Linked DNA regions of Homo sapiens. The protein of the gene in region 7 purifies or fractionates together with the protein of the main gene of each other region. This does not show direct contact. Each region holds a gene or a part of one and is shown on either strand. Other genes may lie near its edges.

The links.
Region 1: the proteins of ZRANB1 (region 7) and FBXW11 purify together in Homo sapiens (affinity purification with mass spectrometry; 3 studies listed by BioGRID and IntAct, with this or other methods). This does not show direct contact.
Region 2: the proteins of ZRANB1 (region 7) and STRIP1 purify together in Homo sapiens (affinity purification with mass spectrometry; 4 studies listed by BioGRID and IntAct, with this or other methods). This does not show direct contact.
Region 3: the proteins of ZRANB1 (region 7) and STRN4 purify together in Homo sapiens (affinity purification with mass spectrometry; 4 studies listed by BioGRID and IntAct, with this or other methods). This does not show direct contact.
Region 4: the proteins of ZRANB1 (region 7) and CTTNBP2NL purify together in Homo sapiens (affinity purification with mass spectrometry; 4 studies listed by BioGRID and IntAct, with this or other methods). This does not show direct contact.
Region 5: the proteins of ZRANB1 (region 7) and SLMAP purify together in Homo sapiens (affinity purification with mass spectrometry; 3 studies listed by BioGRID and IntAct, with this or other methods). This does not show direct contact.
Region 6: the proteins of ZRANB1 (region 7) and CTTNBP2 purify together in Homo sapiens (affinity purification with mass spectrometry; 3 studies listed by BioGRID and IntAct, with this or other methods). This does not show direct contact.

Annotation. Positions count from the first base shown.
Region 1 is NC_000005.10:171,901,711-171,905,740, forward strand, and holds part of FBXW11 (F-box/WD repeat-containing protein 11), read right to left. Parts: intron 1-4,030.
Region 2 is NC_000001.11:110,044,605-110,048,634, reverse strand, and holds part of STRIP1 (striatin-interacting protein 1), read right to left. Parts: exon of another isoform or gene 3,948-4,030; intron 3,796-3,947; coding exon 3,730-3,795; intron 3,621-3,729; coding exon 3,557-3,620; intron 1,956-3,556; coding exon 1,884-1,955; intron 1,094-1,883; coding exon 1,019-1,093; intron 864-1,018; coding exon 766-863; intron 1-765. UniProt on the Homo sapiens protein: Plays a role in the regulation of cell morphology and cytoskeletal organization. Required in the cortical actin filament dynamics and cell shape. Part of the striatin-interacting phosphatase and kinase (STRIPAK) complexes.
Region 3 is NC_000019.10:46,739,730-46,743,474, forward strand, and holds part of STRN4 (striatin-4), read right to left. Parts: intron 1-3,745. UniProt on the Homo sapiens protein: Calmodulin-binding scaffolding protein which is the center of the striatin-interacting phosphatase and kinase (STRIPAK) complexes.
Region 4 is NC_000001.11:112,447,998-112,452,027, reverse strand, and holds part of CTTNBP2NL (CTTNBP2 N-terminal-like protein), read right to left. Parts: intron 3,087-4,030; coding exon 2,856-3,086; intron 1-2,855. UniProt on the Homo sapiens protein: Regulates lamellipodial actin dynamics in a CTTN-dependent manner. Associates with core striatin-interacting phosphatase and kinase (STRIPAK) complex to form CTTNBP2NL-STRIPAK complexes.
Region 5 is NC_000003.12:57,758,888-57,762,917, reverse strand, and holds part of SLMAP (sarcolemmal membrane-associated protein), read right to left. Parts: intron 1-4,030. UniProt on the Homo sapiens protein: Associates with the striatin-interacting phosphatase and kinase (STRIPAK) core complex, forming the extended (SIKE1:SLMAP)STRIPAK complex.
Region 6 is NC_000007.14:117,789,707-117,793,736, reverse strand, and holds part of CTTNBP2 (cortactin-binding protein 2), read left to right. Parts: intron 1-955; coding exon 956-2,609; intron 2,610-4,030. UniProt on the Homo sapiens protein: Regulates the dendritic spine distribution of CTTN/cortactin in hippocampal neurons, and thus controls dendritic spinogenesis and dendritic spine maintenance.
Region 7 is NC_000010.11:124,976,229-124,980,258, reverse strand, and holds part of ZRANB1 (ubiquitin thioesterase ZRANB1), read right to left. Parts: intron 1-4,030. UniProt on the Homo sapiens protein: Ubiquitin thioesterase, which specifically hydrolyzes 'Lys-29'-linked and 'Lys-33'-linked diubiquitin. Also cleaves 'Lys-63'-linked chains, but with 40-fold less efficiency compared to 'Lys-29'-linked ones.

The DNA.
Region 1 (4,030 bases), on a different chromosome or scaffold from region 7:
AAACATCTATTGAAACAATTTCCCCGAATGCTCTATTTGCACAGCTAGTTGGAAAGGTGGGGGGCAGCTTTGTGCGGTTTATATTTATCCTTACTATAATTCACCTTCAAAGCTTTGTCTGACCCATCCATTTCAGTCTCTAGAATTCTGATTTTTGTCACACCCAGAAGAGTGGGTATTCCACACCAGACCTGCATGATGGGCTAAAGTACTAAGGCAAACATGTTAAACCATGTTGGCAAACACGTTAAACGGGTCAGAACCAAGGACAGCACCCATGACACTAGCTATTAGTACCTATTATTATAATATTTCCCTCCAAGCTAGCACTGATGCCGCATCAATATGCCCAGGGCACCCACACTGCGACATCCGGTCTGTAGTCATCTATATGTGCCATTGCCCAGTCCATATCTCTCTATTCTGTCCTCGGAGGTATTTGGAAAAATCAGCAGATGATGATATTACCATCTATTTACATCATTCTTCAGACCTACCTACTAGCCTGGTAACTTTATCCAAAAAGGAAATAAGGTGAGGAGGGTATGGCTGCTTTCATGTTCCCGTGCTGGGGTTTACTACATAAAGTTGTATTGCAATTTTTCACTTACATGTTGACACTAGCTGCTTGGTAACCCTTTTAAACATATCTAGTTCATGTTCATTATAGAAAATTTATAAAGTGTAGATGAGCAAAAATTTTTAAATCCCTAAACCCCATTTCCCAGAGAAGGGAACCACTTTTCACATTCTGTATACATCCTTCTAGGTTTACACAACCATACACAATCTTTTCAGAGGCTGATTAGCCTTTGAAACTCATCTAAGAATTCTGCTAAAGCACAACATCAAATTTAATAGCTAAATCCCCCAAAAACACCTTCTCCAGTTCTTAAAACCAGGAAGTCTGCTCATCAATCATCTCTGGTGCTATCATGCAAGACTACCATGTGCAACTGTACAAGCTGTACAGGGCACAATTGTACCCAATAGTTCTGCATACTGATTTTCAATTGCTTCACAATGTTCTACAATTTGAAAAATCACAACCACAGGTTTTGCCACTATCCAGGCATACAATGTATTTAGGCCTACTTGTCTATAGGAGCTATGTGATTGCTAAATATCTTCACATCTTTCTCAAACACAACTTTGCTAACCTTTGTTTTAAAGCCATTATTCTTGGGTTGGGGGGATGGTGGGATTAGGTTAATGGGAGTGAAAATATGTTGTTTCTTTCTATTATCACTATACTATCTATTCTAAGCACACTATCCCTTCATCCTTTATAATCTGGCTCCAAATAGTTAATTATTTTGTTTTCAACTCTTTCAATTTACTTCAACATTTTGGACAATTTAACATTATTTGGAGTTTGGTCTTCTTGGTACCATTCTCAAAGGTTTCACAGGGACTCACTCTATCACCCAAGTTGGAGTACAGTGGCACAATCATGGCTCACTGCCACCTCAAACTCCTGGGTTCAAGCAATCCTCCCACCTCAACCTCCCAAGTAACTAGGACTACAGGCACATGCCTCCACACCCAGCTAATTTTTTTTTATCATTTGTAGAGATGAGGTCTCACTATATTGCCCGGGGTGGTCTCCAACTCCTGGGCTCAAGCAATCCTCCTGCCTTGGTCTTGAAAGTGCTGGGATTACAGGCGTGAGCCACTGCGCCTGGCTGCCTTTCTTCCATCTTCTATGTTTACTTAAAATCAGGGAAATCCAAGGATAATCACGTGGGGTTCTGCTTGTGCCTCTCCATCACTAGGATTGACAAATTATTCATCAGAATTTCAAACTGCAGAATCCGTCAGCCTTCTTTTATCACATTTTTGTTCAGTCTCTAGCCGTGGACTAACAGACTTAGCTCTTTCAATCTTTCTAACGCTGGGGTACTTATCTATCTTCCTTTTCTGATTTCTACACTTAATATTAGAACATAGCTAATTACAGCATCTCACTCTGTTGCCCAGGCTGGAGTACAGTGACATGATCATGGCTCACTACAGCCTTGACCTTCCAGAATCAAGTGATCCTCCTGCCTCAGCCTCCCTAGTAGCTGAGACTACAAGTATGCACTACCATGCCAGGCTAATTTTTTTTAAAAAAAATTTTAGTAGAGACAGGATCTCACTATGTTGCCCAGGCTGAGAACATAGCCACTTTTAAAGTAATGTAAACTTCACATCATTAACCCAAATCCTCCTAACTGGTTATAAACACATCTCAAACTAATTCCTCTCTAGAACCCTCTGCTCTCTGAAAGGTGAAACAAATGGCAAGACAAGGATGCATTAGGGGCTGCATGGTGGCTCACACCTGTAATCCTAGAACTTTGGGAGGCCAAGATGGGCAGATCGCTTGAGTCCAGGAGTTTGAGACCAGCCTGGACAGCATGGCAAAACTCCATCTCTACTAAATATACAAAAATTAGCCATGGTGGCACACGCCTGTAATCCCAGCTACTTGGCAGGATGAGGCGCGCGAGAACCACTTGAACCTAGGAGGTGGCGGTTGCAGTAAGTGGAGATCATGCCACTGCACTCTAGCCTGGGTTACAGTGCAAGACTCTGTCTTTTTTTAAAAAAAATAAAAAATAAAAAGAATGCATTAGATACTCGCCTTTTCAAACCTCAAAGGCTGCAACATCCCCATCATCTGTGACGGGAAAGCAGCACCCAAACCTTCAACCTATCTGGGTGGTCTATAAGCCTGTGTGGTTGTATCTGACTCAACTCAGGGTTACTGATTTTCAAAACAACAGCAAAAAGAAAAGATCCCCCCAATCTTCTCCTGACCTACAAAATCAGAATCTCTAGACGGTAAGGCCCAGGAATCTGGGTGTGGTTTTTTTGTTGTTGTTGTTGTTTTTGGAAACAGATTCTCACTCTGTCGCCAGTATGGAGTGCAGTGGTGGGATCTCAGCTCACTGCAACCTCCACCTCCTGGGTTCAAGCGATTCTCCTGCCTCAGCCTCCCGAGTAGCTGGGACTACAGGCGCACACCACCATGCCCAGGTAATTTTTGTATTTTTAGTACAGATGGGGTTTCACCATGTTGGCCAGGATGGTCTTGATCTCTTGACCTCATGATCCACCCAACTCGGCCTCCCAAAGTGCTGGGATTACAGGTGTGAGCCACCGTGCCCAGCCAGGAATCTGTATTTTTAAGAAGTGCCACTAGATAATGCTGAAGTATTAGGAACTATTGGTTTATAGCAATGATATCCCTTTTAGTCCTCTTTGATTCCCCCATCAATTGCTCACAACTAGGCTATCATGAGTTTTTACAGAAATAAATCCCTTACTAATACTTATTTCTTCCTCTTTCAAATGCCATCAGTCCAATTAAGCAACATCTCAGTGATATCTATGAGATTTGACCTATTTCCTTTGTCTGATACTTTAAATGCATTTCCTCCTTCTATGAGGCAGCATGTTTTAGTCTTGTGAAAAACACACTGCCTGAAAGTCAGAAAAACTAGGTTGCATCTCAGTTCTGTCAACTGCTAGTTGTGTGACCTTAAGCAGATCAGTTTTCCTTTTAGGATCTCAGTCTTCCATAATATCAGAATGATATTAAATGTCTGAAATAAATTACATCATATAATCTTCACAATAACCTTCTGAGATAGGTACTCTACATACCCTCATTTTACATAGAGGGAACCTCCCAGTCTTGCTGCGAAAGTTTAAAAAACAGCATACGTAAAGAGCTAGGTAAATAAGAAGTTCACTCAAGAAATATCAGTCTTTGTTCTACTCTCCCCCAAATCCTCTCAGCAGATATCAATGGACAAGGCCGATACACAATATTCTTCTTGTTACCTTCTGCAGAAAAAATACTACGCATCTCCTCCAGCAAAAAGCTAACCCCCCCCCCTTTATTTTCTTGGTATAAGTCTCATGGCCCCTTAAATGTTTTGAGAAGAACAGGAATCACACAATCTCTATTCAGGTACCTTAGAGTGGCCACCCTCAGGAGCCATGCAGAGCATGTAACTTTCTGGTTTCAAGCCTATTC
Region 2 (4,030 bases), on a different chromosome or scaffold from region 7:
AAATCCATGAATCAAATATACAGTATTTGACTCTAGAACCTTTTTTCCAAGGACCATCACATGATGGCCTAGTGTTCTGTGATCCTCCCTCTGGTGTTAGCCAACCCCTGCCTCCTCCCTCAGCCGGCCATCACTGCCATACTCCGGGGCCACAGCCACCCAGGAGCTGGGCTCAGGGCTGGTGGCCCAGGCAGGCAGAAGATCAGGTCAAGGTCCAGGTCCTTCTCAAAGTAGAACATGATCTCAATCTGGACTCTCACATGAAAGACAAGTACAGGGCACAGGGCAGAAGAGCTCTGAAGAATCTCACTCTATCGCCCTGAGACATTTGCCAGCATTCTGCGTGCCCAATCACTGGCGAAAAGGGATGTCTCTATACCTGGCACAGGTTCAGCTGTTGCTGGCAAGCTGTCTACAAACTAACCCTCCTCATCCTGGGTGTCTCAATCACAGCTGGAGAGTGGGGCTTTGGGGAAATGTCCAGGGTGGCCCCATTCATTTTACAGAGGAGGAAATGACTTTCCCCAATTCACTCAGGAGTTTGCTCAGTGGTAGAGTCTACACTAGAATCCAGGCCAACAGGACCAAGCCATCTCCCCAACCAGTGAAACTCTTTAATCTCGTAGTTTCCTTTTTTTGGGTCAAAAATACCTACATTTAACCTGTAGAGCTGGGCCAACAACAACCAACCTGACAAGAGGAAAATGTTTGCCCTTCTCCATCTATCTTCTGCCCCACCTGCTTCATTCACAGAATGATACTCACGGCATCTCCTCAGGCAAGACGTCCGCTAGGATGTTGATTGAGTCTGTTTTGGCTTTTGAGGTGGGTGCTGCAGCCAACAGGATCTTCAGGAGGGCAATCTGGGAAGAGTAGACCATTCAGACACAGGTCTGAGAGCCCAGGGTCAAAATTAAGCTCTGAGCAGTCCTCCTGTTGGTCTGCAGGTGGCAGGAGGACGGCAGGGCCTGCTCTAAGGCCAGTGTAGTGGGAGTGTCCCACTGCAGGCACCACTCACCATATACTGAGGCAGGCTGGGGAGCAAGCCTTGGTAGAGGGTTTCTGCAGGGACTTGCTCAACTTCTTCTTCTCCCTTTTAACATAATGAGTACAAGCATAAAACCCCAGCCCAGAATACAATCTCCTGAGCCAGCTTCCTAGCTGGCTGGAGGAAAACCTGTAAACAGTGATGTACATAATGATGTTAATGATGATAACAGCAAACCCTGAACACAAACAATGTGCCAAGCATTTTACTTGTAATAACTCAGTTCATCCTTATTATTATAACCCTATAAAGGTATTATTATTCCTATTTCACAGACAAGGAAATAAAGCATAGAGAGACCCAGTAACTTGCCTAAGTTGCCATCCATAAAGTGGTGGACCCAGGCATCAGAGGCAGGTTCCTGACTCAGTCTGTATTCTTAACCCTGCACTAGACGTGTCTCAGCCTGTGCACTGGGAGGTGGACTGGGAGCTCTTTGAGGGCAGGGCCTGGGGCAACCTTGTGGTCTAATCCCAGCACAATGCCTGGGAAGAGCTGGGGATCCCGGGGGCTGAAGAGGACCTCTAACTTTTTTTTTTGAGATGGTCTCGCTCTGTCGCCCAGGCTGGAGTGCAGTGGCGCTATCTCGGCTCACTACAAGCTCCGCCTCCCGGGTTCACGTCATTCTTCTGCCTCAGCCTCCTGAATAGCTGGGACTACAGGCGCCCGCCACCACGGCTGGCTAATTTTTTTTTTTTTAGTAGAGACGGGGTTTCACCATGTTAGCCAGGATGGTCTCAATCTCCTGACCTCATGATCTGCCCTCCTCGGCCTCCCAAAGTGCTGGGATTACAGGCGTGAGCCACCGCGCCCGGACTGAGGACCTCCAACTTACCCCTGAGAGAGGGGAGCGGAGGTATTCCTCCTCCATCTGTGCCTGGACCTCTGCAATCGACGTGTACTTGTGCTGGTGGGAGAGATGGGAAAAGAAGGGCTGGGGAAAACATTCTCTGGCCAAACTCCCTGCACTCTAGCAAAATCCCCACACATTTGTCTTCAAACACAGTCTTCTGAAAGAGGATTAAGTCACCACAAAAATCCCTAGCTAAAATCCCAAACCCCAGATATTTTTTATTTTTATTTTTTTGAGATGAAGTCTTCCTCTGTTGCCCAGACTGGAGTGCAGTGGCATGATCTTGGCTCACTGCCACCTCCGCCTCCCAGGTTCAAGCAATTTTCCTGCTCCAGCCTCCCAAGTAGCTGGGACTACAGGTGTGCACCACCACACCTGGCTAATTTTTGTATTTTTAGTAGAGATGGGATTTTGCCATGTTGGTGAGGCTGGTCTTGAACTCCTGACCTTAGGTGATCCACCCACCTTGGCCTCTCAAAGTGCTGGGATTATAGGCGTGAGCCACCATGCCTGGCCCCAAAATATTTTTCTAAAAGGGCCCCTTCCTCTTGCAACTACAGTAAGAAGCCCATGGTAGATAAGAAAAAAGTAAATTAAAGGAGGGAAATGGCCTTTCAGATAGCTACAGCAACAGGAGAAAAACTGAAAGCAAAATCAAGTACTCAAAAAGCCTAGCTGCAGAGAGACCACTTAGTACTACAAATTCCAAAAATATATTTCAAAAACATAAAAACAGTTTCACTCCAGATAGCTGTTAGGGGAGATGCCTCTTCCCCACTCTTAATGTTCTCTCCCGTGTGGAGGGACAGGGGTTTGCGAAACACCCCTCATCTCTCTCTGCCCCGTCCACACACTCACTCCTCCCTTCTCTGATCGGAGAGTATGGGAGGGGACACAGGGCGGACTTGTCCTCACCCTTCTCTTTTCTCTTTAGAACCTGTCTGCCTGCTGAGAGTCTGCTCTCTTCTCCTCCCCGCCACCAAGCTTGGCAGAGCCTCCCCACACTGCCTGGGACTGGTAGGTAACTCTGCCTAATTCTGGAACAACGTATTAGGACACTACTGCTGTGTTCTTAAGCCTCATTCTCCATGGCTCTATGAGCTATAAAGTTGGCATTACAATCTCCATCTGCCTACTCCTCTATTTCAACCGCCTGAGAACGTGGGCAAGGAAAAGGAGGGCTATTTATTGAGCTCTTTAGAATTTCAACAACTGTCAAGTAATATAATCCTTTTTTTTTTTTTTTTTTTTTTTAAAGAATCCGGGTCTCACTCTGTGGCCCAGGCTAGAGTGCAGGACCATGATCATAGCTCACTGTAGCCTTGATCTCCTGTGCTCAAACAATCCTCCTGCATCAACCTCTTGAGTAGCTGGGACTACAGGTGCATGCCTTGGTGCCCGGTGGTCAGGTAATATAATCTTTAAAGACTTCCCAGTCAGTCCCAAACAAAAGCTCAGCTAAAACAAGTAAAACTTATAATAAAACAAGCAAAACTTACGAAAGACTGTTTGCAAGGTTATTGCAAAGTCCACCCCGGCCTCTACCCCAGGTTCTTGCAGGCAGACAACAGTCTTAAAAGGCTTCTCCCTACAGGCTGGTTTCACTCTACTCACTTAGGACCAAACAAGCCAAAAGCTCACCCAAAGCCACTCACCTGTTTCAGAGTCTTGATGCTTTCGTGGATTGGCCTGGGCAGCCCCACCACTGTGTTCGTGTCACTGGAGAATAAAGAAGGCCCTGTGTTGAGCCTCGACATCAAATCACCTGGGATCCCAAACACCAAAGGCCGGGAGAGCTAACAGCAAAATGAACTCGGCTTTTACTCACCTGCCTAGAGTGTAACCTATAAATTTGCTGCGGCTGGACTCAAGGAACATCTCAATGTCTTTCTCTCTGCCACATCACCAAAAAAGAGAGAAAGAAAAAAGGTTTTTAGCAAATGCTATTTCAAAGTGTTACAGTTAACAAAAACACAGCATCCAGAAACTGTGAAGCCAGGAGAAGTCTCCTATAATTGTTTTTCTCTTTGAAAAAAGGGAAAAAACTGAAATTTTCAGAGAATTTTAATGTTTCTTATAATTTTGCTGGATCAGTAACCTGGAAATACATGTTAACTAGTTTATTCATA
Region 3 (3,745 bases), on a different chromosome or scaffold from region 7:
TACTCGCTACATGATCTTACGCAGGTCATCAGCCTTCTCTGAGCCTCCATTTGCCCCTCTAGAAAATGAGAGTCACAAGAGTGCCCTCCCCTCATGTGCTAGGTTCTGCTCAGTCAAGGCCTGGCACAGAATAAAGGCTAACAAATGCCAGCTTCTACTTCTTTCATCATTTTTATTCTCCCTGTCCATTGTTCGCAACTTCGAAATGGGCCCAGTTCCTTACGGGAGGTAGGATCCCTTGGAGACCCCAGATCAACTAGAAATGTCTGTGGATTGGCCAGGCACAGTGGCTCACGCCTGTAATCCCAGCCCTTTGGGAGGCTGAGGTGGGCAGATGACTTGAGGTCAGGAGTTCAAGACCAGCCTGGCCAACATGGTGAAACCCCATCTCTACTAAAAATACAAAAAACTTAGCCAGGCATGGTGGTACACACCTGTAGTCCCAGCTACTCGGGAGGCTGAGGCAGGAGAATCGCTTGAACCTGGGAAGTGGAGATTGCAGTGGGCCAAGATCGTGCCACTGCACTCCAGCCTGGGCGACAGAGCCAGACTTCGTCTCAAAAAAAAAAAGAAATACATGTCACCAGTTACCTTATAGAAAAGAAAACTCATCTGTCCGCTTCAAGAATGGGAAATTTTTTTCCTTTTTAACACTTTTTACCAACACATATGTATATAAACATCCAAGGCCAGACAGGGAAACTACTTATATGACATCAGCATCTCTGAAGCATGAGTTTCTGTCCTTTGTGTATCTTCTCAGTCCCCCAAATCTACTCTCTGAATCACTGGAGAAGGTGTGAGGAGAGGCAGACCGACCACCGAAGACAAGTCCTGACTTTCCTCCTCACTCTCCTCCCTTCCCTCCTGGGGTTTGGTGATTGATCCCTCAACCTCCCAGGGGCAGTTCAGCCTGCCGGGAACCTACACCTTGGTCAATACCTGCCACTGTTTGGTGACTGCCCACACACATCAGGTGCCCCAGTAAGGCGCTGGGGAATAACAGAGGAGCCATGTGGTTCCTGCACCCACAGGGCTCAGTCCCATGCAGGAGACAGGCATGAGCAGCAACTCACATGCAATGTGACTAGGACCCCATTGCGGGAGCGAAGGACGCTATGGGAAGAGGGACAAGAGGCGACAATTCAGCTAAGGCCTGAAGCTGAAGAGAAGTTAGCCAGGGGAGGGAAGGGCCCTGCTGGCAGAGGACGGAGACAAGAGCTGCATGGTGGGCTTAAGGAACTCTAAAAAAGGCCAGGATGGCTGCTTCAGAACCTGTAAAAGGCTCAGTGAAGCCATGGAAGGGTTTTAAGTACAGAGAGGTAACCGATTCGCATGTTATAAAGGCAGCTCCAGCTAAAACATGGAGAACTGACTGGAGGGAGTTCTGGAGGGAGACTAGAGGGAGGGAGCAGGAGAGCGGCAGAGCTGGACACAGAGACCCCCATCACAGATGAGGGCAGTCCCAGAAATCCCAGGACAGAACGGTAGTGGCTTGGACTAGGCCGGGGCAGTGGACACAGTAGTGGTCTATCTGTGGGGGCAGGAGGTGGAGTTGGGCATCCCAACCAGACCTGTCACTGGCTGGGTTCCCCCTTCATCCCTCTGCTGCCTCATCGAGCTGTGGTCTCCCTCCTCCTAATGAGGATGTGAGGGTCTCAGCTGCCCACTCTGCTTTGCTGTCCCTTTCCCAGTGCCTCTGGAAAGAGAACCAGAAAGACATGGTTGGAGCATCTCAGGGAGGTGGAAACCCACCAAAAACGGGAAGCGTCAGTGGCCAGTCTCTCCCTCGCTGCAAACGCCAGCAGCCCCCACGGGCTGTCTGGTCTGCGAGGGCCAAGGTAGGCCTGAGGGTCGGTCGGGGATCTGGAAGTGCCGCTCACCATATCCACCCACTGCCACTCCCTCTAGCCAGAGCCGCAGAGCATGCGCTCCCAAAACCTTCTGATACCTGGCAGCTACTGCCTCTCCGCCCCTCCAGCTATTCCCAGCAAGGCGACATCTAAAGGCTTCGGAGGAGTCCCAGCAATTCAGTCCTCCCAGGAGCTGATGCCTCTCTGAATTCGCTGCTTCCTGTCCCAGCTAGCTGGGAAGAGTCCCCGTTTCGTGCCATCTAGCCCTGCATCTCCTAAGGGCCTCCTTCCCAAGCTTCAGCAGCTGCTGGCAGGAATGGGCCCCCAGGAAGCTGAAGTGGGCAGGGGCAGCTCCGCACATTCTCTGCTGGCACCGCACTCACTGCAGGTCCCTGTCGCTGCTCCTATACAAATCTCCAGTTCAGATCCCTCATTAAAAGGTCCCTCCCATCCTCAAAAAGCTTCCCCTCTCAGAGTTGCCACAGAACAGGGGCAGAGCCACACAATCAACTGTGCATGAACATCTACAGCTCTGCGGTCCCCTGCACAAACAAGCTTCCTCTGCCAGCCTGGAAGTTTCGGATGGGCAGAAACCACGTTACTTACTTCTCAGAATCCCCCACCTAGCAAATGCCTGCTCATTATCAGACTGCAGCTCCGCCACCTTCCTGCTCCAAACTTATGGTGACTACTGGCAGGACCTCCCTGGGGGCTGCCTTCTCTGCCATTCAACACACAGGTACCAAGCAGGGTCGCACGGCAGGTCTTCTGCTAGGAGCAGCTGTATTAAGCTCTTCAGAGAAAAGTTATTCAGAGTCCATCAGGAAAATCTGACACTGCCTAGCTCTTAAGGGATCTCACAGGGGAAGTCACACCGTCTGTTAGCACTAAGTGTTCAAGTAAAGGTGTGTAAAAGAGGTGCCGCTGATGGGAGAGTAAACTGGTGGGTCAATGTGGCAGAGTCATTCACTGTTTCTTTTTTTATTTTTATTTTTTTTGAGATGGCATCTCGCTCTGTCACCAAGGCTGGAGTGCAGTGGTGTGATCTCGGCTCACTGCAACTTCTGCTTCCCGGGTACAAGCGATTCTCCTGCCTCAGCCTCCCGAGTAGCTGGGACTACAGGCGCCCACCACCACGCCCGACTAATTTCTGTATTTTTAGTAGAGGTGGGGTTTCACCATATCGGCCACGCTGGTCTTGAACTCCAGACCTTGTGATCCACCTGCCTTGGCCTCTCAAAGTGCTGGGATTACAGGCGCGAGCCACCGCGCCCAGCCCAATCACTGTTTCATAAACACATCCATTCTACTATTCCACTCATCTGTTCTGCTTCATTCTTGCACAGGAATAAGGGGTTCTCACTGCAGCCATGTCTGATGGGGGAAAAACTAGAAAAAATCTAAAAGTCCACCAACCAGGGTCAAACTCAATCAGCTATGGTGCAAACATCCCGTGGGACGCTATGCAGCTATCAAAAAGAAAGAGTTCTCTGTGCTGATATGAAAGGAAAACCAAAACAGATTATTATGTCACAAAATGATACATACAGCAGTAGTTCATCTATTACATAAGCACAATAACTCTTCTCTCTCAGGAGAGAAGAGCAGGAAAGGGACGAAGAGAAGGAACTTTCCTTTTTCACTTACATATATATGTGTATACACACACTCACACACACACACACACCCCTCTGAGATGTCTGAATTTTTACTAACTTAACAGAATAAAAGAAAACAAAAGTACAAAGTGACAGTGCTGGTACCATGCCAGACACAAGTTCCTCTCAAACTCCAAGAAGGGTCAGTAAGTGAGGGGATAAACATCTTTTCTCTCATCAGCCTCCAGGATGAGAAGATGGTGTGGTGGGTGCTGTGCGGTGCACTGGTGCAAA
Region 4 (4,030 bases), on a different chromosome or scaffold from region 7:
AGACTAAAACCCCACAAAGGAGAGAGCCTCTAGCAGAGAAAAAATTTTAATAATATTTTGAAGAAGAAAAGAGGCTGGAGTTGTGGTAACTACTTTACTTTGAAGGAGGGAAGCTGTTTTGCCTTGCAGAGCCCCAAAGAGATGGAACCTGGAGGTGGCAGGTACTGCAGAGGAGAGGTGAAATGTAGAATAGAAAACAGGAGAACTGGCTCAAAGCCTGTTTTTTTGTTTGTTTGTTTTGTGTTTTTTTTTTTTTTTTTGAGACAGTCTTGCTCTGTCACCCAAGCTGGATTACAGTGGTGTGATCTCAGCTCACTGCAACCTCCACCTCCTGGGCTCAAGCTATTCTTCTGCCTCAGCCTCCCGAGTAGCTGGGATTACAGGAACGCCACCATGCCTGGCTAATTTTTGTATTTTTAGCAGAGATGGGGTTTCACCATGTTGGCTGGCCTGGCCTCGAACTCCTGACCTCAAGTGATCTGCCTGTCTTGGCCTCCCAAAGTGCTGGGATTACAGGCATGAGTCACTGTGTCTGGCCTTCAAAGCCTGTATTTTCAGAATTATTTGTCCCTTCACCCTGATTCCTGCACACAGACCATCAGCATCTGGCCTCTGTCACATCTACTATTCCCAAATCCTGAGCCTGTCACATTCAAGAAATAGTGTGACAGGCTCAGGATTTGGGAATAGTAGATGTGACAGAGAATGGTGGTGGGAAAAGAGGATTAAATTTGTTCTGGGTAAGGGTTAAGGAGAGGAAAGGGAGGCGGGGTGTAAGATAACTAAATCTGCACCTATATAAAAGAAAGTAATATAAATGTCTAAAATTGATAAAGCAAGAGAGAACAGTGCAGTATTTAGAAATATGGAGGTTAGCTACCAAAGTGAATGGCTAAAAGAAAAAACTGGTTGCCTGTGAATACTGGGGAGGATGGGGAATGAGAAGAGGTGGAATAGAAAACTGTTTTTCATTGTAAGCACAATGACCATGTAATTTATTATTCAAACCAGAACATTTCTGACAGTCAAAGGGAATATGGTTAATAACTAAGCCAAGGTGACAGGCATAAGCTGAGACTATGAGCACCCTAATTATAAGCCTCTAGGTACTGTTTGATTTCTAACAAAGTCAGTCTTCTACTTTGATAAACCACTTAAACTTGAACCTGGGAGGTGGTGGTTGCAGTGAGCCAAGATTGTACCACTGCACTCCAGCCTGGGTGACAGAGTGAGACTTCACCTCAAAAAAAAAAAAAAAAAGAATAGATAGGTACTTTGTTTCAAAAATTTAATATTCACTTAAAACATTTAGCACTGCAATATAGTATTAAGAAATTTTGAATTATTTTTAACTTCTTCCTCTCTCCAATCACCTAGAAACACAAACTGTCCCTAGTACACCTTCCATGGGCATGAAAGCTAGCCCAACTAGCTTCAACACAACTCAGTCACCTCATGGATGAAGTGGAAATAAAGCCTGCCTATTAAACAAGAATGTTGTGAAGATTTTTAGAGAATTATGTAAAAGCTCCCCCTCCACCCAATTTAGGCAACTAACTCCCACCCACTGATACCTTTTAAATTGGAGTGTAAATGTTTTCAGATTACTTCATTCTAACCAGAGGTTAAACATTTTTGGGTCTTGGGTAACTTGGAGAATCTGATTAAAGCTATGGAAAAAATACATTTCCTACAAAAATGCATAAACTCTGAACATTCTGTCTATTTTCTGGGGGACTGTGGAACATCTGAGGCCTATCCATGGTTAAGAAGTTCCACTCTGGCCTTTCATTTGGCTTCTGTGAAGGGAAAGAAAAGATCACGGGCAAGATCCAGAGCCTAGAAAATGTATCAGATGCAATTTAAGAAGATGGCTCTAATGCTGATAACCATAAAAGTAAGGTCCACCAAATTTTGCAGCTGCTAACCCTATTTTTCAGATGAAAATGTTTCCTACCAAATGCACTGATAACTGCCTTGTTGGCATAAATCTAAACTGACAGTGTTTTAAAAATGAAGATTGTAGCCAAGCATCTTTTACAGGCCAAATTTGAGGAGTAAATGACAAGATGACAAGTTGGTGAATAAATTCACAAGCACTAGAATTCCAGTAAGATGAAGCAGAGGAAAGCACAGGTTTGCCTTCTTAGGGCTTGTTAGAAATGGAAACACACACACACACTCTTTACTAATAGGGTAGAACAGCTTTAAAGTAAATACTGTAAATAACCATAAGGTTTGCCTTCCTATTTTAGGGCTTGTTAAATATGGAAAACACACACACACACACACACACACACCCCTCACTAATAGAGTAGAACACCTTTAAGGTAAATAAACCAAGGGACTGTTTATGGTTTCATGAGCAACAAAATGCAATGAAACTCAAAACTAGGAATAATAGGAATAAATGAAAATAATCTATTGGCTTCTGTGTTTATCCTCAGGTAAATTCTTTCTCTCCCTTGGATATAGCATGCCTCAAATACCTGTTAATCTTTTTATTTATCTCTTAAGTAAGCAAATAGAGAACACTCCCGTCAGCTACAAGCTTGGCCAAACCCCAAAGTTTGAATGATCAAGAACTGAAAAAACATACAAAGTGTTTTGGAGTGACATATCAAGAAGAAATGCTGTCTTAAATAACGTGTCTGGCACGTTCTCTAAACTTAACATTTGCAATAAGCTGTGTTTTCTTTTTTATCTCCTGGCTCTTACATAAACTAAGGGGCTTTTTGATACCCGTGAGATGTCCCAATTGAATTACTGTGAAAAACTGGCAGCTGACAAGAAAGTATCAGGCATAATTTATAAAGACTTCACAAAGATTTACACATCAACTGAGGTGAACCTACCTTTCGGTGCCTGCTCTCAGCAGCAGCCAGCTGGGACAGCATGCGCTCCTGCATGTTCTTGCACTGCTTCATCACAACCTTAAGAATAGAGAGTGGATTTGTGCAGACTGGCTGCTTTTCGCCATCATTTTTCTCCTTCAGTGTTTCAAAATCTCTCTGTAGAGCCATTAAAGGATCACTGATGTTATATTTTCCATAGCGTTCTTCAATGAAAGTATCTCTGTGTTGGGCCTGGGAAAGAGGAAAAAAAATAAGCATCTTGCTTTTTAAAACTACTGAGGAAGGGGGATTTGCTATCCAGTGGTTATACATTAAAGGTTGTGGTATTAGTATAAATGTAACCTACTAATTACAAGTCAGATTGAGCCATCTAAAGAAACAGCATTAGAAAGGTGGCATGGTATATTAACAAGAACAAATACTTATAAAGCACTATGTATTAGACATTGTTTTAAATATTTATAGTCAGATTAACTTGTTTAAAATTTACAACCCTGTAAGGTAGTGCTATCATCTCGATTTTGCTGATGAGAAAACTATTCCTGGTTACTCATCTAGCAAGCTGTCTGAATTGGGATTTAAACCCAGGCAACCTGGCCCCGAAGTCTGTGTCCTTAACCTCTGTGCTTACTGACTCTGCTTATATCTGCTTATGAATGCTTATATTACCAGCAGGTACATCTTATTTTTTTCCGTGTTATGGTACTAGCATTTCTAAAACATGTTAAGTATGATAATTTTATGAGTTTATATATTTAGAGACCTAACAAAATGCCAGCAGATATATAAAGTGTGCAAAATATAAGCAGGATCACATTACAATCTAGGACTACTTGTGACCTGTACATATGAACCATTACTCAGTTGTTGATGGGTCAAGGAGGATGGAGGCACCTCATAACCAGACATGCAGACAAAACCTCTTCCACCTGCTGCCAAATTCCACCCCCTCTTCTTGTCTCTGGTTGTTACTTTCCATTCTCTTTTCTGTCTCTTTCAAGGCTTGATGAGCCTTGGGGATGAGCATGTAAGAAAGGGATGCAAGCTGGTGCCTGGAGTCTGGTCAAGGACGTTAGCCCTGGGTACCCAGTTGGGAGTATAAGGATCAGGAAGTGGGTGGAAAGATATTCCTAGGCTTCCCTCTTTCCTTATCTCTGTAGGAAGAGCTTGAAGAA
Region 5 (4,030 bases), on a different chromosome or scaffold from region 7:
CCCTGTCTCTACTAAAAATACAAAAAATTAGCCAGGCATCTGGGCATGGTGGCTCATGCCTGTAATCCCAGCTACTTGGGAAGCTGAGGCAGAAGAATCACTTGAACCCAGGAGGGAGAGGTTGCAGTGAGCCGAGATTGCGCCACTGCACTCCAGCCTGGGAGACAGGGCAAGACTCCGGCTCAAAAAAAAAAAAAAAAAAAAAAACCATTCTACTATCTGCCATCTAATTTGAAGAGCTTGACTTCCGAAAAGGATGAAGGATAATACACAGGGCCAGCATCCAACAAGGCAATATCCAACTGCTACATTACTGAGAAGATGATTTGGTAAAGATTATGAAACTCTGCTTTGTGCCAAACCTGTCACCCTTCAACATGCAGATTTAAGTATTATACAATAAGATATTCCATGAGCTTAGCATTAAAAAGTGTCACTTAGATTTCCACCTGCCTACATTTTGCAGATATTCTAAAATGAACATGTATCATTTGAATAATCATAAAGTTTCAAGTGTTTATTATTTCTTCCAACTTTTTTTTTTTTTTTGAGACAGAGTCTCACATTGTCACCCAGGCTGGAGTGCAGTGGCGCGATCTCAGCTCACTGCAACCTCCGCCTCCCGGGTTCAAGCAATTCTCCTGCCTCAGCCTTCCCGAGTAGCTGGGATTGCAGGCACATGCCACCATGCCCAGCTAATTTTTTGTATTTTTCGTAGAGACAGGGTTTCACCGTGTTAGCCAGGATGATCTCGATCTCCTAACCTCGTGATCCGTCTGCCTCAGCCTCCCCAAGTGCTGGATTACAGGCATGAGCCACCAAGCCTGGCCTATTTCTTCCAACTTTTTTTTTTTTTTTTTTTTTGAGACGGAGTCTCGCTCTGTCGCCCAGGCCGGACTGCGGACTGCAGTGGCGCAATCTCGGCTCACTGCAAGCTCCGCTTCCCGGGTTCACGCCATTCTCCTGCCTCAGCCTCCCGAGTAGCTGGGACTACAGGCGCCCGCCACCGCGCCCGGCTAATTTTTTGTATTTTTAGTAGAGACGGGGTTTCACCTTGTTAGCCAGGATGGTCTCGATCTCCTGACCTCATGATCCACCCGCCTCGGCCTCCCAAAGTGCTGGGATTACAGGCGTGAGCCACCGCGCCCGGCCTTCTTCCAACTTTTAATGAGCCTCCCATAATGGACAATGCAGAATGCAACAGTCACCACAAAGTGAAAGTCACCCAAAGCACATATTACCCCAATTGTCGACCGCCCAGGTAAACTGCCAATTTAGACAAAGTTATCAACTACATCAGTTTCAATTTTAAAAATTTCTTCTGGCCAAGCACAGTGGCTCATGCCTGTAATCCTAGCACTTTGGGAGGCCGAGGCAAGTGGATCACCTGAGGTCAGGAGTTTGAGACCAGCCTGGCCAACATGGTGAAACCCTGTCTCCACTAAAAATACAAAAATTAGCCAGGCATGGTGATGAATGCCTGTAATCTCAGCTACTTGAGAAGCTGAGGTAGGAGAATCTCTTGAATCCAGAAGGTATAGGTTGCAGTGAGCTGAGATCGCACCACTGCACTCCAGCCTGGGTGACAGAGCCAGACTCCGTCTCAAAAAAACAAAAAACAAAAACAAAAACAAAATTTATTCTATATATGCCATCACATTAAAGAAAATAATTTCTCATCACCTTCCTAAGACTCCATAGCACTATAGCAAATTGCACAGTGTTGTCTAAATAGTTCCCTCTTCCCCACTAAACACCCTCTCTGCTGAGTATTGGGTGCTTAGTAAGAGCCAGGGACAGGGTGCTAAGTGATTTATATAATTACCTCAATTCTCAAAACAATAATAGGTACCATTATCATCCCCAGATGTTTAAAAAAAAAAAAAAACCTGGCCGGGCGCGGTGGCTCATGCCTGTAATCCCAGCACTTTGGGAGGCTGAGGTGGGTGGATCACCTGAGGTTGGGAGTTCAAGACCAGCCTGACCAACATGGAGAAACCCTGTCTCTACTAAAAACTCAAAATTAGCCACGCGTGGTGGCGCATGCCTGTAGTCCCAGCTACTCGGGAAGCTGAGGCAGGAGAATCACTTGAACCCAGGAGGGAGAGGATGTGGTGAGCCAAGATCGCGCCATTGCACTCCAGCCTGGGCAACAAGAACGAAACTCCTTCTCTGAAGGGATTCTTTTTTTTTTTTTAAGAGACAGGGTCTTGCTTTGATACCCAGGCTGGAGTGCAGTGGCATAATCACAGCACTGCAACCTCAAACTCCTGGGCTCAAGCAACCCTCGTGCCTCAGCATCCCGAGTAGGTGGGACTACAGACACTGCAAATTTCATACGAGAACTATTTGGTCGCACTGTGGGTTTTCTTTGGAACTGTATCCCTCACAGTGTCTGGCACATAATAGATGCTCAATTAAAACCTACTATCTGTCCAAACCAAAACTTTAAATAGTTAATTCCTAAAACAATTCAATGACATGGTAAGATCTGACAGAGCATCCGCTATAACTAGATTAAGTGGTATAATAATCAATAATTACATCTATATCTAAAGTAGTGGTCTCATAGCCTGCGTGTTATTTTAGCTAATAAAGCAGGAGGAAAAAAGTGAAAATGGTAGAAATAAGCCATATCTACCATTCAAAGATAAGTTTTTCTGAAGAACTAATTTCATGGCCGGGTGTGGTGGCTTATGCCTGTAATTCCAGCACTTTGGGAGGCCGAGGAGGGTGGATCACTTGAGGTCAGGCGTTCAAGACCACCCTGGCCAACATGGTGAAACCCAGTATCTACGAAGAATATAAAAATTAGCTGGGCATGGTGGCATGCGCCTGTGATCCCAGCTACTCAGGAGGCTAAGACACAAGAATCGCTTGAACCCAGGAGGCAGACGTTGCAGTGAGCTGAGGTTGCGCCACTGCACTCTAGCCTGGCCACAGAGCGAGACTCCATCTCAAAGAAAAAAAACAAATATTAACATGTCATCTCAATTCATGAAACAGTCACTACTGACCTATTCTTAGTTATCTCAAAATAACCTATTGTGAGAGTTTTAGTACAGCCATGGAAAGCACTGGGCATGAAATCAGTATTTTTCAAATAAGTAAAACAAAAAATGGGAGTCCCCTTCGAGTGTTTCATCAAAGAAAGTGCATTCGCAGAGTATGTACTGTGAGCCAACCTGTTGTCTGATTAGTTTAGACCTGTTGCCCAAGAACATAAAATGGTGAAAATGTAAAAGCTGGTTGAGTTAAGGCACTACTTAGTAGTAAACTGATGTTTGAATTCAACTGCTGGAAAAATGAGTTCTATGAATATTCATTTTAAAGAATTATGAGGGCCAGGTGCAGTGGCTCACGCCTGTAATCCCAGCACTTTGGGAGGTTGAGGCAGGTGGATCAACTGAGGTCAGGAGTTCAAGACCGCCTGGCCAACATGGTGAAACCCTGTCTCTACTAAAAATACAAAATTAACCAGGCATGGTGGCGTGTGCCTGTAATACCAGCTACTTTGGAGGCTGAGGCAGGAGAATCACTTGAACCCGGGAGGCAGAGGTTGCAGTGATCTGAGATAGCGCCACTGCACTCCAGCCTGGGTGACAGGAGCAAAAATCTGTCTCAAAAAAAAAAAAAAAGGATTACGAGTAATCTATGAAGTATTTTAGGCACCCTAACTTCAGCTTGCGAGGAGCGAGTGAAGGGTCTGTTCCACAGGTAAATGAGGATCTGGTGTTAAACAGAAAAGTTAACATACTCTTCAGTTCTCATCCTACACGTAAAGTATAGATATTATGCAGCACACAGCACTTGGACAATCTTTTCCTCCTTTCTTTAAAAAATAATTTACAAAATAATTCCTTAAATCAGTAGCTGCCGAAGTATCATTTTTTTCTCTTCCTTTTGAGGCTCAGGTTTCTTTCATTTCAAAACATATTCTTGAAGACTTAAGTTCTTCCTTTAAGAAAGATTTAATTATTTAACTCAGAAAGAGGGGCAAAAAGTCAGGAGGTGAAACCTGAGACAGTCC
Region 6 (4,030 bases), on a different chromosome or scaffold from region 7:
AGGGCCTATGGCTTGGTGAACAGACAGTGCCTTTCTGTGAAGGAAAAGGCACCCCTGTCTTCATGCCTGGGCAGGCAGCTGGGTGAGTAGGGAAATCCAAGGAAGGGAGAGAGGGCTGGAATTTTGCTCCTACTCACCCTCCCACAGGTCACTCTTGTGCCATGCGCACATGGCTTACTGCAGGAGCGCTACGGGAAGGTGTGTGGTGGGAATCCCATGCAGAGAGAACAGCAAGGACAAAGACCCCGAGGCAGGACCATGTTTAGGAAACTCCGGGCATCCAGCGAAGCTAAGGGAGTAAGCAGGATCAAAGTAGGAGACAAGGTCAGGCTCCAGGTTCACTGACACCAAATGTAGTTCTAATAAGATCGTTCTTTAGCTCTTTAGAGTTTTCAAAGAACTTTCTTTCATATATAATTTTATATGATTTCCACAACAACTCATCATAGGAAGCTCAAAGATGTTACATTACTGAGATAGGTAATACAATTAGCAAACATGGGGGCTTAGAATTTAACTGAAGTCCTCGGTTTTCAGTACTTTTCATGATACTTTACCTCAGAGATTAATAATTTTAAAGCATTAAACCTTTTTTAAAAATATCACCAATTCCATCACAGAGCTGTGTTTTTACAAAAATAGACCTTTCTGATCCCTGTGCTGTGATTTAAAGCATCTGGTTATTGTTCTCTTTTTCTGTAGTTAACTTCAATAGACTTTAAAAATTCTCTATTGTTGTAATTTAGATGTCTTTATAAAGCCATTTACGTCTATTTTCTCATTTTAATGTGTCTTTAAAATATTTCTTATCACAACACTTTTTGAAAATGTGGCGTTTTTGCTAACCCGAGTTATGTAATTGTTAGAAAATTAATAAAAATCTCACAAAAAGCATTTCCTTGGTGAAAAGAAAATTCTGTATATTAATCAGGGTTTTCCTGTGAATTTCTTTCAGCTGGAAATGGAGAAGCTTCAGCTACAAGCCCTTGAGCAAGAGCACAAGAAGCTGGCTGCCCGCCTTGAGGAAGAGCGTGGCAAGAACAAGCAGGTGGTCCTGATGCTGGTCAAAGAGTGCAAGCAGCTCTCAGGCAAAGTCATAGAGGAGGCCCAGAAGCTCGAAGACGTAATGGCCAAACTGGAAGAGGAAAAGAAAAAGACGAATGAATTAGAAGAGGAACTCTCCGCTGAGAAACGAAGAAGCACAGAAATGGAAGCTCAGATGGAAAAACAACTCTCTGAGTTTGACACTGAGCGGGAACAGCTTCGTGCCAAGCTGAACCGGGAAGAAGCACACACCACTGACCTCAAAGAGGAGATAGACAAGATGAGGAAAATGATTGAGCAACTGAAAAGGGGAAGTGACAGCAAACCAAGCCTCTCTCTTCCACGGAAGACAAAAGATAGGCGTTTGGTTTCCATATCTGTGGGAACAGAAGGAACTGTGACAAGGTCTGTTGCATGCCAGACAGACCTAGTGACAGAAAATGCTGACCACATGAAAAAGTTGCCTTTAACCATGCCTGTAAAACCTTCCACAGGGAGTCCCCTAGTTTCTGCAAATGCAAAAGGGAGCGTGTGCACCAGTGCCACCATGGCCAGACCAGGTATTGACAGGCAGGCTTCCTATGGTGACTTGATTGGCGCTTCTGTACCCGCTTTCCCACCTCCAAGTGCAAACAAAATTGAGGAAAATGGACCAAGCACTGGCTCAACACCAGATCCAACCAGTAGCACACCCCCACTTCCCAGTAACGCTGCCCCTCCCACCGCTCAAACACCAGGCATAGCTCCTCAGAACTCGCAAGCTCCACCTATGCACAGTTTACATTCACCATGTGCCAACACCTCTTTGCATCCAGGTCTAAACCCACGAATCCAAGCAGCTAGATTTAGATTTCAGGGCAATGCTAACGACCCAGACCAAAATGGAAATACTACCCAAAGTCCTCCGTCAAGAGATGTCTCGCCTACAAGTCGTGACAACCTAGTGGCCAAACAACTAGCTCGGAATACTGTGACCCAAGCACTGTCAAGATTTACAAGCCCTCAAGCAGGTGCTCCCTCAAGGCCTGGAGTGCCCCCAACAGGGGATGTTGGCACCCACCCTCCAGTTGGTCGGACCAGTTTAAAGACTCATGGTGTAGCACGAGTTGACAGAGGAAATCCTCCTCCTATCCCTCCAAAAAAGCCAGGGCTCTCCCAAACTCCTTCTCCACCACACCCCCAACTCAAGGTTATTATAGACAGCAGCAGGGCCTCGAACACAGGGGCCAAAGTTGATAACAAAACTGTGGCTTCGACTCCTTCCAGTTTGCCACAAGGGAACAGGGTGATCAATGAGGAGAACCTTCCTAAGTCATCCTCCCCTCAGCTGCCACCAAAACCATCCATAGATTTAACTGTGGCACCTGCAGGCTGTGCCGTTTCAGCCCTGGCCACGTCTCAGGTGGGTGCCTGGCCTGCTGCAACCCCCGGACTGAACCAACCTGCATGTTCAGACAGTTCCCTTGTCATTCCTACCACCATTGCCTTTTGCTCTTCCATAAACCCCGTTAGTGCCTCATCCTGTAGACCAGGTGCCTCAGACAGCCTCCTGGTAACAGCATCAGGTAAAGGGATTGAAATGTTATACGCTTTTTAAAGAATATGGCCTCTCTTCTCACTTGCCTTGATTTTCTTCACATTGCCTTGAAACTTTTTTTTTAAATTTGATGCTTCCCCCCACCCCCATTTCTTTTCTTTCTCTCTCTTTTTTTGTATTTTTTTTAAAGGCTCCAGGGTATGGTGATTCATCTTGCTATATGAATTGCGGTTTCGCTATGCTAAGTGCTTTCTTCATTTAAGATAACCTGAAAGTAGTGGCTTAAAGCACATGGAGACCATTAATTTAGAGAGACTAAAATATTTACATGGGAGAAAAGAGTATTCCTTCTTATTAAATATTTATCTCGCAAGACCTCAGTGGGTCATGATCAGACAGTACGTGTTCAATTCTGTTCCTTCTGAGATGACATTTTTAAAGACCTTTCAAGTAATTATTAACACTATGTTGGATTACCAAATTGACTAGATTTGTTCCGTAATTGGTATATTTTAAGTTCTAATATCAGTTTGGTGTTTTCGGTTTTTTTTTTTTTTACCTTCAGAAATGGAGTGTGAATATTTATAAATCTGTTCTAAGTTTAGTTTATTTCAAAAGCCATGTACCCTATTTAGTGCTGCCATCTTCCAACACTCGGGCACAGATGGTTAACATAGCATGTGGGCTATGTCACAGAAGGTTTCCACTGCAGGTGTGGCTTATGAAGTCACTGAATCTGGGACTCTTGAACAAAGAAGAGGTGGATTTTTCCCTTTTGTTATACAGTGCTAGAGAAAGCATTGCTTTTTACTGACATGACTGGATTAGTTATTTACTAAGCAAATGTGGCTCTAAAGTAATGTTACCAAAAATACATAATTGTAAATGGCAGAGACTGGATTCCAAACACATCTGACTAACTGCAAAGTCCATGCTGTTTTCAATTCCCAATTTTACCCCTCAAAATGTGGATGACAAAGTTCTGTTGACACTTTGAAGAAGTCTCTCCTACCATGGGATCTTAGTGGTTGGTGGAGATTGTTGGTTCAAATGGGAGAGAACTTTTATAATTACAGGAAGGTTTGAACAGTTGTTATATTTAATACTTTGAGGGGAGAGAGAGAAAAGCAAATAGCATCATATTTGCTAATTATCAGGTGATGACAGCAGTACACTAGGATTTATTTGTCCAATTATAAGCTATCAACTTGAAATTAAGGTCTTTGAGAGGCTTTATCCATATTTTGAGGGGCGAAATAGGGAATTGGAAGCAGCATGGACTTGGAAGTTAGATCTATGTTGAAATCTAGTCTCTGCCATTTACAATTGTGCATTTTTGGTGACTTCTTTTGCTACTCATATGGGGGAGGGTGGCTGTTAGGAGGATTGGATCCTATAACCTGTCAGCTTGGTATTGAGCTTAGAATAGCATGAGTAATCAATAAATAG
Region 7 (4,030 bases):
ATAAGAACAGACAAGCAAACCAAATCCAGCAATATATGACCAAATGGTACAGGAATACCAGTTTGGTTTAACATTCAAAACTCAATTCCATGTTCATGGATTGGAAGGCTCAATATTGTCAAGCTGGCAATACCACCATCACCCCAATTAAATCTACAGATTCAATGCAATCCCAATCATAATCCCAGCTGTCTTTTTTACAAAAATCGATAAAGCTGTATCCTAAAATGTATATGGAAATCCAAAGGACTCAAAATAGTCAAAACAATGTTGAAAAAGAAATACAAAGTCAAATGACTTACAGTCCAGATTTCAAAATGTATTACAAAGATATGATCATCCAGACAGTCTGGTAATGACATAACGATAGCCCAGTGGAAAAATAAATCAATAGAAAAATATTAAGAGTCCAGAAACAAACCCTTACTTTTATGGTCAACTAATTTTCGACAAAATTGCCAAGGCAATAGAATGTAGAAAGGGTTTTTTTCAATTAAAGGTACCGAAACAACTGGGTATCCACATGCAAAAAGGTGAATTTAGGACATCTCACACTTTAAACAAAAATGACCTCAAAATGTAAAACAAAAATGACCTAAATGTAAAAGTTAAAACTATAAAATTCTTCTATGAAAACACAGGAGTAAATCTTCGTGACCTTGGGCTAGACAAAAATCTCTTCAGATACAACAGCAAAAGCATGAGCAATAACAGAAAAACATTGATAAACTGAACTTGATCAAATTAAAGACTCGTGATTTCAAAAGACACTGCTAATGAAGTGAAAAGACAAGCCACAGAATAGAAAAAAATATCTGCAAAGCAGATATCCAATAAGGGACCTGATACAAACAACATCTGCAAATCAATATTAAGACAATCCATTTAAAAATGAGCAAAAGACGTGGAAAGATATTAAACCAAAGACGCTATAGGAATGAGCAATAAGCACATGAAAAGACACTCAGTATCATCATTAAATAGGGAAATGCAAATCAAAATCACAAGGAGCCCATGTGCCTGCAATCCCAGCTAACTGGGAGGCTGAGGCTAGAAGATCACCTGAGCCCAGGAGTTCAAGACCTAGAACATTTTTCGTTGCTATCAGCAATGTATGAAGATTCCAATTTCTTCAAATTCTCAACAACACTGTTATCATTTGTCTTTTTGGTTATGGCCATTTATGTGCATGTGAAGTAGTATCTCATTGTGTTTTTCTTTGTTTTCAGACAGGGTCTCATTATGTTGCCCAGGCTGGTCTTGAACTCCTGAGCTCAAGCAATCCTCCAGCCTCAGCTTCCCAAGGCGCTGGAATTATTGGCCTGAACCACCAGGCCCGGCCGATAATTCTTCATAACAAAAACAGTCACTTTAGGAGGCCGAGGTGGGAGTCTGAGACCAGCCTGGGCAACATAGCGAAACCCCGTCTCTACAAAAAAATACAAAAAAAAAAAAAAAAAAAAAATTAGCTGGGAATGTTGGCATGTGCCTGTAGTCCCAGCTACTTGGGAGGCTGAGGTGGGAGAATTGCTTGAGCCCACAAGGTATAAGGTTACAGTGAGCCAAGATCGCACCACTGCACTCCAGTCCAGGCAACAGACCAAGACCCTGTCTCCAAAAAGAAAAAAAGGAATAATTCTAAAAGACTTATATTGATTTTTTTCCCCAATTAACATTAAACGCCTCCACCTGCCCCGTGGGAAATTGGGTTGGCATGTCACTGAAAGGCAAGTACAATATATTCAGACTTGAGAACCTGAGTCAGCTAAAATCACGGGTATCCAAGAGAACAGCACAGCTAGCTACAAACACAAATAGCCTATCTTGAAGTGACGGGTGGAGGGGTTCAAATAAAAGAAAATTGCTTTCTCAGTTCTTACTATGTATCTTATATGACTTAAGAAAACATCTCACTCCAGCTGATTTCAATTAAGTGCAAAAGGCACCTCAGCAAAGAGCATCTTTAAAAGGAGACTACACAAGCTACATGCTGGCTCCTCCTCTCCTGGCCTAGAAAACCCACGGCTGCTCACTCTACTCTCTACTGGTCACATGACAGGCCCAGTGGACAAACCTAATGCAACTCAACACAAGAACTATGTATGGGTTATTCCTTAGGGCTAGTATATCTGATCTCCCGAATCCATGGCAACAACACTTACTATCTAACCACTAATTTTCACCCCAACCCACCCCCCAATACTGTAAGGATGTCTGTGTGATCACTGTAATCAATGCAGCTTCCTATGCCTGAACTGTAAACCATCGGGCAAAGCTCCCCGGTGGCAGGGACTGGAGGAGGTGATGCCAAACCATGCTGTTCTGGGACACCTGTCCATATGCCAGCCCTAGGTGCTCACTCCTGAAGCATCCTTTAAGAGTCAGGACTATGGACTAAAAGTTCTGCTGCAACAACTCTTGCCAGTGGCTGTAAACAAACAGCCTAGTTCCTTCTCACCCTAGTAGCCACTCCCTATCTAGCCTATTTACAACATCAGACTGTATTTCTCCACCAAACCATCTTTTTTTTTTTTTTTTTTTTTTTTTCTTAGCAGGGTCTCACTCTGTCACCTAGGCTGGAGTGCAGTGGCATGATCTTGGCTCAGTGCAGCCTCAACCTTCCAGGCTCAAACAATCCTTCCACCTCAGCCTCCCAGGTAGCTGGAACTACAGGCACACACTACCACGCCTGGCTAAATTTTGTATTTTTTGGTGGAGACAGGGTTTCACTATGTTGCCAAGGCTTGTCTTGAACTCCTAGGCTCAAGAGATCTGCCCACAATCTCCCTATCTCTATGCTGGACTTCTGGGACCTCAAATGACTTGCAACCATCTGAGAATTCCAGTCCCGATACAAACATTAGTGACAACTCACTCATAAGATCATCCATAGCCAGCTCTGAGGAACAGGTGGGCATAAACCCCAAAGCAATTCTTACTCACCACAAATGTCTTTTTAAAAAAAGAAAAAAAAAAAAAAAAAGGCCAGGTGCAGTAGTAGCTCATGCCTGTAATCTCAGCACTTTGGGAGGCTAAGGCAGAAGAAACACTCGAGTCCGGGAGTTCAAGACCAGCCTGGGCAATACAGTGAGGACCTCATCTCTACAGAAAAATTTTAAAATTAGCCACGTGTGGTGGCACACTCCTACAGTCCCAGCCACTCATAGGAAGCTGAGGTGGGAGGATCACCTGAGCCCAAGAAAGTGAAGGATGCAGTGAGCCAAGATCGTGCCCCTGCATTTCAGCCTGGGTGACAGAGCAAGACCCTTTCTCAAAAAACAAACACCACCACCAAAAACCCTCATCACTAAAAAAAAGACATCACTTCTAAAATCCACAGTGTACTTTTGGCCTTTCAACAGATCAGGAAATTACCACCAAAGAAAAGGCCAGGCGCGGTGGCTCACGCCTGTAATCCTAGCACTTTGGGAGGTCGAGGTGGGCGGACTGCCTGAGCTCAGGAGTTCGAGACCAGCCTGGGCAACATGGTGAAACCCCATCTCTACTAAAAATACAAAAAATTAGCCAGGTATGGTGGCGCCACCTGTAATCCCAGCTACTTCGAAGGCTGAGGCACGAGAATTGCTTGAACCCGGGAGGCAGAGGTTGCAGTGAGCCGAGATCATGCCACTGCACTCCAGCCTGGGCGACAGAGTAAGACTCTGCCTCAAAAAAAAAAAAAAAAAAAAAAAAGGAAATTACCACCAAAGAAAAGATTACTGGCTGCCTTTTTAGAGAGAACCTGCAAAGTGGTAGATTTACCACAGTTCAAACCTGGCTTTCCATCTTACAGGGCAGAGTGACATTAACCAAAACTACAAGGCAGACCTGTGAAACCACAATGCCAAGAACCCACTGTCTTAGGAACCAAACCAGGTTCATCCTCTTGACATAGACAGGCCCATAGCAGTGGTCAAGAAAATCAGCAGTAGGAAGCTAAGAAAATCAGCAACAGGAAGCTGCTTGGTGACCACAGGATCTGATCAAGAGGGCCAGACCGGCAGAGCACTGACCAGCATCAGGCTTACCC